Linked DNA regions of Homo sapiens: region 1 is linked to region 2. Evidence: fine-mapped expression QTL. A gene starts in region 2. The other region holds a variant in brackets. All regions are shown on one strand. Distances are between the middles of the regions. Region 1 overlaps CEP295 (centrosomal protein 295). Region 2 holds the start of TAF1D (TATA-box binding protein associated factor, RNA polymerase I subunit D).

Evidence for each region. PIP is the estimated chance that this variant, and not a neighbour inherited with it, causes the effect. A credible set is the group of variants that fine-mapping cannot tell apart.
Region 1: its variant is the best candidate, but not a certain one, in a credible set for the expression of TAF1D in whole blood (TOPMed, PIP 0.56).

What each region holds. Positions count from the first base shown.
Region 1 is chr11:93,701,510-93,706,880 of GRCh38, reverse strand. CEP295 (centrosomal protein 295) reads right to left here. Exons shown (of 30, transcript NM_033395.2): 16 at 4,244-4,421; 17 at 3,962-4,105; 18 at 1-136. Among named protein-coding and RNA genes, the nearest start is that of SNORA25, 26 kb to the left of the region's middle. The variant G/C (reference allele first, on the strand shown) is at 2,037.
Region 2 is chr11:93,739,123-93,744,505 of GRCh38, reverse strand. It overlaps TAF1D (TATA-box binding protein associated factor, RNA polymerase I subunit D), which reads left to right and starts at 3,011. Exons shown (of 6, transcript NM_024116.4): 1 at 3,011-3,184; 2 at 5,175-5,269. The coding sequence starts at 5,202. C11orf54 (chromosome 11 open reading frame 54) reads right to left here and starts at 2,834. Exons shown (of 9, transcript NM_001286069.2): 1 at 2,778-2,834. RefSeq lists enhancers at 1,082-1,621, 2,142-2,261, 2,028-2,713, 2,842-3,351.

The DNA.
Region 1 (5,371 bases), 38 kb after region 2:
TCACCACAGACATTCTCTTGGCCAACCAGTTGAAGACAACTAAACGGATCATGGGCCAGTGGGCTCCCAAAGAAACTTTGTTCTCGGCTTATTGAGACTCGCAGGGGGTCTCTGTCTTCATAAATACCTGGTTTACCTGGGGGGGAAAAAATATTTCCACTTCAATTTCTGGAACTATTAATAGCTAGAACTAAAGTGCCAATTTATATTATGGGTAGAAATCTAAGCTCTTAAAGACTTACTGTATATAGCAATAATTCCTTACCTTTCACAGTCAAGCTTTTATATTATTTGTATTCAATTTTACTAAGCTTTTAATGATGCTGCTACCTCACCACATCAGATTATGCCTCAGTATTGACTAATCACAAAGAAAATTCGTGGAGAATTTACCAGCCATTATAACATGCATTCATAATTTATATATAAAGTTCAAAAATAACCACAACTAATTTGTGGTATAGGAATCAAGATATGGTTTAGAAGACAGGGGATGATAACTGGGAAGGTAAAAGAGAAGTGTTTACTGGGTTCTCTAATGTTCCACTTCTTGACCTGGTGGTGTTTACATGAAACAAACATGATTTGTGCACCTCTTTGAAGGTTATATTTTGATAAAGCATCGCCCCAAAAATTGGGAATTAAGGGCGCTAGGCACTACTACAAAAGGAATACATGCAGCAGGAAACTAAAAACAGAACATTTAAGACTATGCACTTGGAAGAGTTATCCCTCTCCTGAGATCCCTGTCCATCAACATCATCCCCAGAGGAAACTAAAGGTTTATTCTCTGGAGAAAACGAATCTGATACACTCTGGGGTCCAGGGGATCAGGCACAGAAAGCAGGCAAGAGTGGAAGGGGGTGACAGAATGCCATAAGGAAATCAGAGGGTGTTAAAGTCTGCATCCTCAATCCAGATCTCCTAGGTCTGGCTCAATAATATCAACAGCCAGGCTTATATCAAGCTTAAAAGGTATTTCTTTGAAGAAACTAAACTTCTCTCAAGGAATGGAACTACAGATACTAAGGTGAGCGTCCTCACTACAAAGCCATACTTTTTCCAATAAAGTCCAACAGCACATATAGCCCCTCACCCCAAGAGAACCTCCAATTGGCCTTTTAGCATCCCGTTCAAATATGAAGACATTAGAGGAAAGGTTCTAAAGTATAAGACAGAGACAACAAAAAAATGAAAGAACTAAAAAATGTAAAAACCCAAACCAAAAAATCCACTGTAAATATTTAAAGTAGACAACATTCTGCATCCATGAAACAATAGCAGGATGCTATAAAAAAAGAAAATAATCAGAGAAAAAGAGTAACCTTTTAGAAACTACAATTTGATCATCAAAAGTTCAAAAGAAAAGTCAGAACACAAAATTAAGAAAATTAGCCCACAAAACAAAACCCAAAGAAAAAGAAAGAGAAGAAAAAATGGAAAGATCAATATAGATCAGTATTTCTCAACCTTATTTTTATCATCCCTTAAGGAGTCTTTTTAGACTTTTCCTTTTTAAACTGCCTCTACCCCCGTTCAGTTTTAATAACCACAAATATACTGTATATCTATTTATGCATATTTGTGCTTTGTACATATAAATAGTAAAAGTTTTTTTTCACCTCCCCAAGAACCAATTTTTATCCCTCTGGGGGAAAAAACACCCTTGTTAAGAATGCATAGCACGGCCCATACAACTTCCAACTAAAAGGTGTTCCACAAAAAGAGAAAATAGTACAAACTACATTATATTGAGAGGTATTTAACTGAAGTAGTAGAGAGTGGAAAGACAGACACTCTAAAAACTTTAAGCAAATTAAATAAATAAGACAATTTACTACATGAAAAAAAGTTTAGAAAAATAAAATATAATAACATAATATACTAATGGACTCCGCAGCAAAAAAGGTCTATGTATCACCATAATGACAATTTAGCTTAATTTTTGCTTAAACCCACTGCAACTATGGAAGTAAATACAAGAAGAAATACTTAAAATACTTGAAAAGTAACTGCCTCTAGTGAGTGGTATTAAA[G/C]GGTGTGTAGGGGCAGGAAGAACTGCTGTTTTATGTTATACCTTTCAGCGCTATTTCCCTTTTTAAATTACTTGCATGTAATATGATGATAGAAGTATTACCCTAAGAAGTATGGTAAAGGCTATGATGAGACCAAGACTTCATGAGAAGGAAATCTGAATAAGTTTACCAAACCAATGACACTTACTAAGTCTTGAAGGGAGGAAGAGAAAGATCATGAGGGCCTGGTAGTTCACCTACCAGGGGTTTTGGTAGGGATTTTAGTTCACCTACCTAGGGGTCTTGACTTATTTAGACTTACTCCTAGACTTAAAAGAAACCACTGCAGTCTCAACCCCCTGGGCTCAAGTGAGCCTCCTACCTCAGCCTCCCAAGTAGCTGAACACTACAGGCAAGCGCCACCAGAGGGGGTTTCCCTGCATTACACCAGGCTGGTCTCGATCCTCCCATCTCAGCCTCCCAAAGTGCTGGGATTACAGGTGTGAGTCATTGCACCTGGCATACCTCCCTTAATTCTTTCAAATGCTCAGAAACACAGGTACAATATTTTATAGCTGAAGATCAAACAGCTAATATTAACATTACAGCTTTTTTTTCAACTACTATACTAATGGGGATACAACTTCTAAGTACCTTTCTATTGACAAAGCTAATGTTCCCCTTTAAAAAATAATTTATTTTGATAAATTTGATCGAGAAAATTATTTAGTGAATCTGAATTCTAAAAAAAATTATGAAATTCACATAAGACTATTTATTAAGAATTACAGAGATGGGGCCGGGCGCAGTGGCTCAAGATTATAATCCCAGCACTTTGGGAGGCCGAGGCGGGCGGATCACAAGGTCAGGAGATGGAGACCATCCTGGCAAACACGGTGAAATCCCGTCTCTACTAAAAATATAAAAAAATTAGCTGGGCTTGGTGGCGGGTGCCTCTAGTTCCAGCTCCTCGGGAGGCTGAGGCAGGAGAATGGCGTGAACCTGGGAGGCGGAGCTTGCAGTGAGCCGAGATTGCGCCACTGCACTCCAGCCTGGGCGACAGAGCGAGACTCTGTCTCAAAAAAAAAAAAAAAAAAAGAATTACAGGGATGAGTGTTTTATTATTTTTTTCTGACACCTGGATGTAGAAAGTAGTACAGTGAATAAATATATCTAATTGACCACAAAGCCAGGATTTAAGCATAATAATCCTATAAAAATATAAGAAAAGAACAGAACAGTGAAGGTAGGAAAGTAGAAAGTGACAAAGGAAAAGAGAAAAAAAAAAAACCTGAGTGTATCCTAAAAGAAACACATTTAGAAGGCAGACATGAAAGGAAACGGGGAGCAAGACTGTCAGAAGATGGAAAACCAAAAAATTTTTGCCTACAATAAGTTGTTTTCCCCATATACAAGATAAAGAAACTACATAGTCATAGTTATTACCAATGCCACATTTCCTTAAGTCCAAATTTTAAATACTGTTTAAATAAGCCATTTTTTCCTTTTCATGAAAGTCAGTCTAGGTTTCTTTTTTTTTTTTCCATCTCCTTTTTCTGCTATAAGTTTAACAAAAAACATTTAGCACTCTGAAAAAATGTAGACCAGGTGCGGTAGCTCACGCCTGTAATCCTAGCACGTCGGGAGGCTGAAGCAGGCAGATCACCTGAGGTCAGCAGTTCAAGACCGGCCTGGCCAATATGGTGAAACCCTGTCTCTACTAAAAATACAAAAATTAGCTGGGTGTGGTGGCGGGCGCCTGTAATCCCAGCTACTCGGGAGGCTGAGGCAGGAGATTTGCTTGAACCCAGAAGGCAGAGGTTTCAGTGAGCTGAGATCACACCATTGCATTCCAGCCTGGGCAACAGAGCAAGGCTCCATCTAAAAAAAAAGTAGAAAACTGGCAAATTATTTAAAAATCTTGTTTTATCAAAGCATCTATTTACCTAGTATAGAAGTTCTGCCAATTGCTGGTGACTCTACTTCTTGTATAGCACTAAGTTCATGCTGGTTTAAGTCCAAACCACATTTGACTTTTGCTACAGGTGGCTTTGAGGATCTTCTCCCCAGATCTTTCTCCAGATGCTCACCTATTAAGTCAATGACAAAGTTGGATACAATACAAAATCTATTAACATACTTCTAACTTTTCTTCAACTAGCAAGCTACAGGGGACGAAAACAAGGAATAATCAGTGAAATAATTACAATCAAACACAATTATCTTACCACTTTGCTTGGCACTAGTATCTTCTGAAGCCAAATGATTATCATCAGAGTTGTTCCTATCTGCATGCCTAATATTTTCTTGATCATTTCCTGCTAGGTCTTGTGTATTAGGAAACCAGTCTCTGAGCTGCCCCATCTTCTGGGTTTTTAAATCATTTTCAACTGTGGGCTTACTTATCTGAAAAAGTGGAGATGAGGGTGGGGAAGCACAAGTTGGGGGATCATGTGAAGCATTATTCATTAGATTTATATCTCCCTTCTTAAATTAGAACGTAAACCAAATAAATAGTTCCATCAATCACAAAATTTTATCTATATATAAAAAATAAGATATGCTTCTAATGCCAAAAGGATATTTCCATTGAAAATACAACCATTCGGCCAGGCGCGGTGGCTCACGCCTGCAATCCCAGCACTTTGGGAAGCCAAGGTGGGCAGGACACCTGAAGTCAGGAGTTCAAGACCAGCCTGGCCAACATGGTGAAATCCCGTCTCTACTAAAAATACAAAAATTGGCTGGGCGTGATTGTGCATGCCTGTAATCCTGGCTACTTAGGAGGCTGAGGCAGGAGAATCACTTGAACCTGGAAGGCAGAGGTTGCAGTGAGCCAAGATCGTGCCACTGCACTCCAGCCTGCAGCCTGGGCAGCAGAGCAAGATTTCGTCTCAAACAACAACAACAACAACAACAAAAACAACAACCATTCACAGCCTTGGACTTAAAAACTTAGCCTACAGCCAGGTGCAGTGGCTCACGCCTGTAATCCTAGCACTTTGGGAGGCCGAGTTGGGCAGATCATGATGTCAGGAGATTGAAACCAGCCTGGGCAACATGGCAAAACCCTGTCTCTACAAAAAATACAAAAGTTAGCTGGGCATGGTGGTGCATGCCTGTAATCCCAGCTACCCGGGAGGCTGAGGCAGGAGAATCGCTTGAACCAGGGAATCAGAGGTTGCAGTGAGCCAAGATGACGTCACGGCACTCCAGCCTGGTGACAGAGCAAGACTCCGTCTCAAAAACAAACAAACAAACAAACAAAAAACAAACAAAAAAAAACTTAGCCTCCATTTCATCTTTCCATAAGAGATTATATTTGAGTATTTCCCTCTGCTTTTCTTTTGCCATTA
Region 2 (5,383 bases):
CAAAATCTGCACAATGAATAGTATATTCATTTATAATGATAAAAACACTTTACATATTTTTGCTGGCAGTAGGAATAAGAACACAAGTTAAAATCCAAATGTAATCTTAATTTTATTCCCTTTATTATCTCTTTAGTAAAAAGTTAGGTCAGTTGTTTCCGTTTATTTATGTCCCTACCAAAGTAGAAACAAAGTCCAATCTTGGGAGGATGTAGCTTGAATAACTGGTTTAGAAATGTACTTATTAGGGGTACTTATTAGGGATTAGTGGATAAGTGCTTAAATGGTTGTGGATAACAGTGCATATAGGACTCTCAAGTATTTCTATAACAGACACTTGTGCGTTCTACTCTATATTTGACATTTAGACAAAAAAATCAAATGAGTTCCTTAGACTATCACTTTTTCATAATAAAATTTAAATTATGAAGGCCCGTCCAATTCTAAAATGATGTGAACTTCAGGCAGGCTGATGGCACAGCAGGCAGTGTGGTAGCATGTGTATGTGAGTGTTTATGTGTGTGTTGGAGGTGGGGAGAGGGTTACAGTTGGAGCTGAGAAAGGAGTTAGGTTCTCACATAAACTCCAGGAATACAGCCTTGGGCCAGATGGAGGCAAACAGTATTTTCCTGCCTAATTGGTGGGAGTCGATGGCCCAGAAATAGGGTCTAGAAGGGAAACGGAGCTGCAGAGGTTAACACCTGGAGGGGTAGACCAACTATCGCAACTAAACTGGTTACCATTTGAGTGCACACTATATACCAGACACCGTTAGACACTGTGCAGACGTTCTCTCAAAACTTTTCACAACCATGACAGGTTGTAAGACAGGCTGTGGGTCTTCAGGGGTCGCGGGCATCCCCTAGACACAGCCGCAGGGCCTGCATGGAGTTCGCTCCTACCGGCGACCAAAAGCGCTCGCTCCGGCTCCAGCATCTGCTCACCCCCACGCACCCTCCCATAAAGGGTGGAGCGCAGCAGGCCTGGGTGACTGGAGTTCGTGGCTTCCAGCACTCCAGTTCCCGCCTCATTCACTCGCGCCCCCCCTCCCGCGAGGAGTTGAGAGCCGTGGGCTAAGTAAGTGAGGCACCGCAGCCGCAAGACCCACGAAGGGGTCAGAGGAATATCCTGCTTCAACTGCACTCCAGCCTGGGTGGCAGAGCAAGACCCTGTCTCTATAACACAAACAGAGAAATACCAAATGTGGCCGGGCGCGGTGATTCACGCCTGTACTCCCAGCACTTTGGGAGGCCGAGGCAGACGGATCACTTGAGGTCAAGAGTTCGAGACCTGCCTGGCCAACATGGTGAAACCTGGTCTCTACTAAAAGTACAAAAATTAGCCGGTTGTGGTGGCGGGCGCGTGTAGTCCCAGCTACTTGGGAAGCTGAGGTGGGTGGATCTCTTGAGCCCGGGAGGTGGGGGTTGCAGTGAGCTGAGATCGGGCCACACTGCACTCCAGCCTGGGCGACAGAGCGAGACTCTGTTTCTAAAAAAAAAAAGAAAAAAGAAAAAATACAAAATGAAATGTGAAATTTCAATGATTCTGCATTAGGAGTTAAATGTTCCTTCCCTTTAATAGCACTTTTCCCCTTCTTTTTGAACAAGGGACGCTGCATTTTCATTTTGCATTGAGCCTCACAAATTACACAGCTAGGCTTGCTGCTGAATACGGCAGTGAGGGACATGCCATACCAGTCCTGGAGCTTCGTCATTGCCCAGACCCTGTGGATCAAATGCAGTGGGCTGCCTAAAGGATCGGACTTTTTATCCCCGGAATTGTCCAAACTATGGAGCAAAGCAGGTAAAGAGACCAGATTACTTTTAAGGCCCGTTCAATCCTAAAATGTGAACTATAAAATAAGACTAGACAGCTTTACTGATTTTTGTGGTTTATCATATGAAAACAGAATTTTGAAAGCGGAAAAATCAAACCAGTTCATTCCTTTTTAAAATTACTTTGGGAGGCCGAGGCGGGAGGATCACCTGAGGTCGGGAGTTTGAGACCAGCCTGACCAACATGGAGAAACCCCCGCCTCTACTAAAAATGCAAAAATTAGCTGGGCATGGTGGCGCACGCCTGTAATCTCAGCTACTGGGGAGACTGAGGCAGGAGAATCGCTTGAACCCGGGAAGCAGATGTTGCGGTGAGCCAAGATCGCACCGTTGCACTCCAGCCTGGGCAACAAGAGCGAAACTCGGTCTCAAAAAAAAAAAAATTACTTTGGGAGAAAAAAACCCCACCAAAACTAAACTAGTTTACACTGTTTAATCTTAACTCAGGAACCGGTCAAGGAACTAATGGTGTGGGGCAGGGGGGATGTAGGAGGAAACTTAGGAAAAACAAATCCTCCACAGGTCTCACTTGTGACATGTTAGCCAACTCCTGGGAGGCAGAAAGGGTGAGCTTACGAAACAGGTGCAAAAGTGGGGAGGAGACCTGGGCGTGCTATGGAATAACACTGGCGTCCAGCACAAAGGTTACACACTTCGAGTCATGGTCAAAGAATGAGCCTTCTCCAATATTTTAACACACAAGGGTTTCTGAAGGCAGAAATAGACAAAGGATTACAAAACACTCAGGCACACATCCCACCCGTCACCCTCGCCACACACCCGGGACCAGATTTAGAAAGCCAGGCGACAGCTCAGCAAACGCGAGACCACCGGAAACGAACCGGGCTGAGAGGCTGTTTCCTCACAGTTCTCATCCACTCACAAGTGACCGCACGTTTTGTTTTTGTTATTTGCCGAAATGTTCTTGGCTATTCCACTCACCTAAACGGTCACGGTAGCAAAACACCCAGAGTCCGGATCTTCGCCTAGGCCAACCCCGCCTCCTCAGAATACGCGAGCTAGAGCTCCGCCCACGTTAGTCAGTCCTCCCTGCGCGGCGAGAAAAATGGCGCCCCCACGTCGCGTCTCCTCCCACCGCTCGCCTTCTTCCCGGAAGCTAAGTTGTATCGCGAGATTTCGGCCTGACTATTACTTGGGCCACGGAAATAGCCAACCCTTTTCTTCCGCACGGTTGGAGGAGGTCGGCTGGTTATCGGGAGTTGGAGGGCTGAGGTCGGGAGGGTGGTGTGTACAGAGCTCTAGGACACCAGGCCAGTCGCGGGTTTTGGGCCGAGGCCTGGGTTACAAGCAGCAAGTGCGCGGTTGGGGCCACTGCGAGGCCGTTTTAGGTAGGTTGCTAAGAGGGCGAGGCCGTCCGGGCCTGGCGGGCGGGGGAGGCGTTGCATATCTGGGGTTTCCCGGGGCCCCTTCGTTGGTCCGGAGGATCGAGACTCCGAAGTCGGTCCGAGAGGGTGAAGGGATCACGGCCGCAGGCCACTCCGCGCCACGCGGCTGGTATGAGTCCCACACAAACGTGGTTGTAGTGTGGACGGGCTTCATTATATCTTGAGATGGAGGTGTTAAATCGTGTTGCGGACAAGTTTAACCTTATTACGTGATTTAAATGATTTAACCTTCGTATGTGAGGTACCCATTACTCGCGCCGGTTTTCTGCAGGTTAGGCGCTGCCGGGTGAGAGGCGCTGGTGGTCACAGCGTTAGCTCCGGGTAAAGCGCCGCTCTCTGCCCACGTGGCCTCTAAGAATTGCAGAATCCCCACGGAGGCATCGACACCCAAGTAGGAGTGTCTTCTAAACACTTCGAAAAAGTGATTATTGAGCTAGCTTTATTTTGATAATCCCTACTTTTAAAAAAAATTAACTACAGGTATACCGTTAAAGCATGGGGGCAAATTTTTGTTGAATTCCGTTTTTGAGCATTCGATATTTAATGACTTTGTAGAATCTTGTACTTAAAAAAACTAGTAAGACCTTGTACCAGGAAAATACCACAGGGGGCATTTAACAAATCTGAGCTCTTGGTGACCTTATCGTTTCATATTTTAAATATTTTGCTAGTTCATCCTAGGATTTATATGTAATGACTCATGTCAGGTCCCAAGAAGCTACAGAATGAGACAAGAGATTGACTAAGGCATGTACAATAATGAAATAAGTAGTTATCTTTAATTTTTGTTGCCATGCCTTTTTTTTTTTTTTTTTTTTTTTTTTTTTTTTTCCTGAGACAGGGTCTTGCTCTGTCGTCCAGGCTGGAGTGCAGTGGTGCAATCTCGGCTAACAGCAACCTCCACCGCGGCTTAAGCGATCCTCCCGAGTGGCTGGGAGCAAAGGCACGGGCCAACACACCTAGCCAGTATTTTAAGAATTTTTTGTAGAGACAAGGGTCTCCTTGTGTTGCTGAGGCTCACTACATACAAGCTCCACCTCCCAGGCTCAGGTATTCCACCTACCCCAGCCTCCTGACCACAGGCGCGCGCCACTATTCTGGCTAATTTCCGTATTTTTTGTAGAGACGGAGTTTCACCACGTTGCCCAGGTTGGTCTTGAGCTCCTGGGCTCAAGCGATCCGCCCGCCTCGACCTCCCAAAGTGCTGTGTTACACAGGCCTGAGCCACCCAGACCAACCTGTTTTTCTTTTTTCTTTTAGCTCACAAGAAGGAATCTTTTTCTTTTTTTTTTTTTTTTTTTTTGGTATGTTGTATACTCTCTACCATGGGGATGAAGACACAAGAATTATGATAGTTCATTGAAAAAGGTTGAGAATTCAGAACTTGTCAGTTTCCACCAATAATGGCAAAGATACAATATGACAAAGTTCAGTTGCTTAAATGAATCTAGGAATGAAGAATCTAGGAATTATAATGGAGAGGTGATTAGGAGTTTAAAATGGTTTATTGATTGGAGATCCTTTTCCTGGTTTATATAGGGCACACTTTGCTTTAGGAATTCCCCCTTTGATCTTGGAAAACGGCTTTTAATTGTACATTAATACTGTATTGGTAATTGTACGTTAAAATATGTGGCTAATGATAAAACTACATTTTTTACTTATATTGAAAGATGCTTTTGTTGGAAGGGACGGTACTTTTTTGGAATCTTGTTGCGTTGAATACATTTAGAGGGTAACAACTGAAAGAACCTGTGAATAGAATTTCTGGATTTCTTTTTAAAGAAACTGATCTGAAATGGATAAGAAGCTTAACCTTGGTAAATGATTTCGCCTGAAATCATTGGCATAGTCTGACCACGTTCAACACTGTAGTAGATACTGTCAATATTTAGGGAAGCTTTGTCATATTTACTAAATTTCATAATTTCAGAAAACTGTTTAAAACAAAGAGCAATTGATGGATAAATCAGGAATAGATTCTCTTGACCATGTGACATCTGATGCTGTGGAACTTGCAAATCGAAGGTGAGTGGATTCAATCATGTTTATTGTATCTGAATTATGAGAAACTATTGTATATAATGAGTGACAGTAAAGATAATTTTCAGGAATTGGGAAAGAAGGAAAACTAGATTTCAC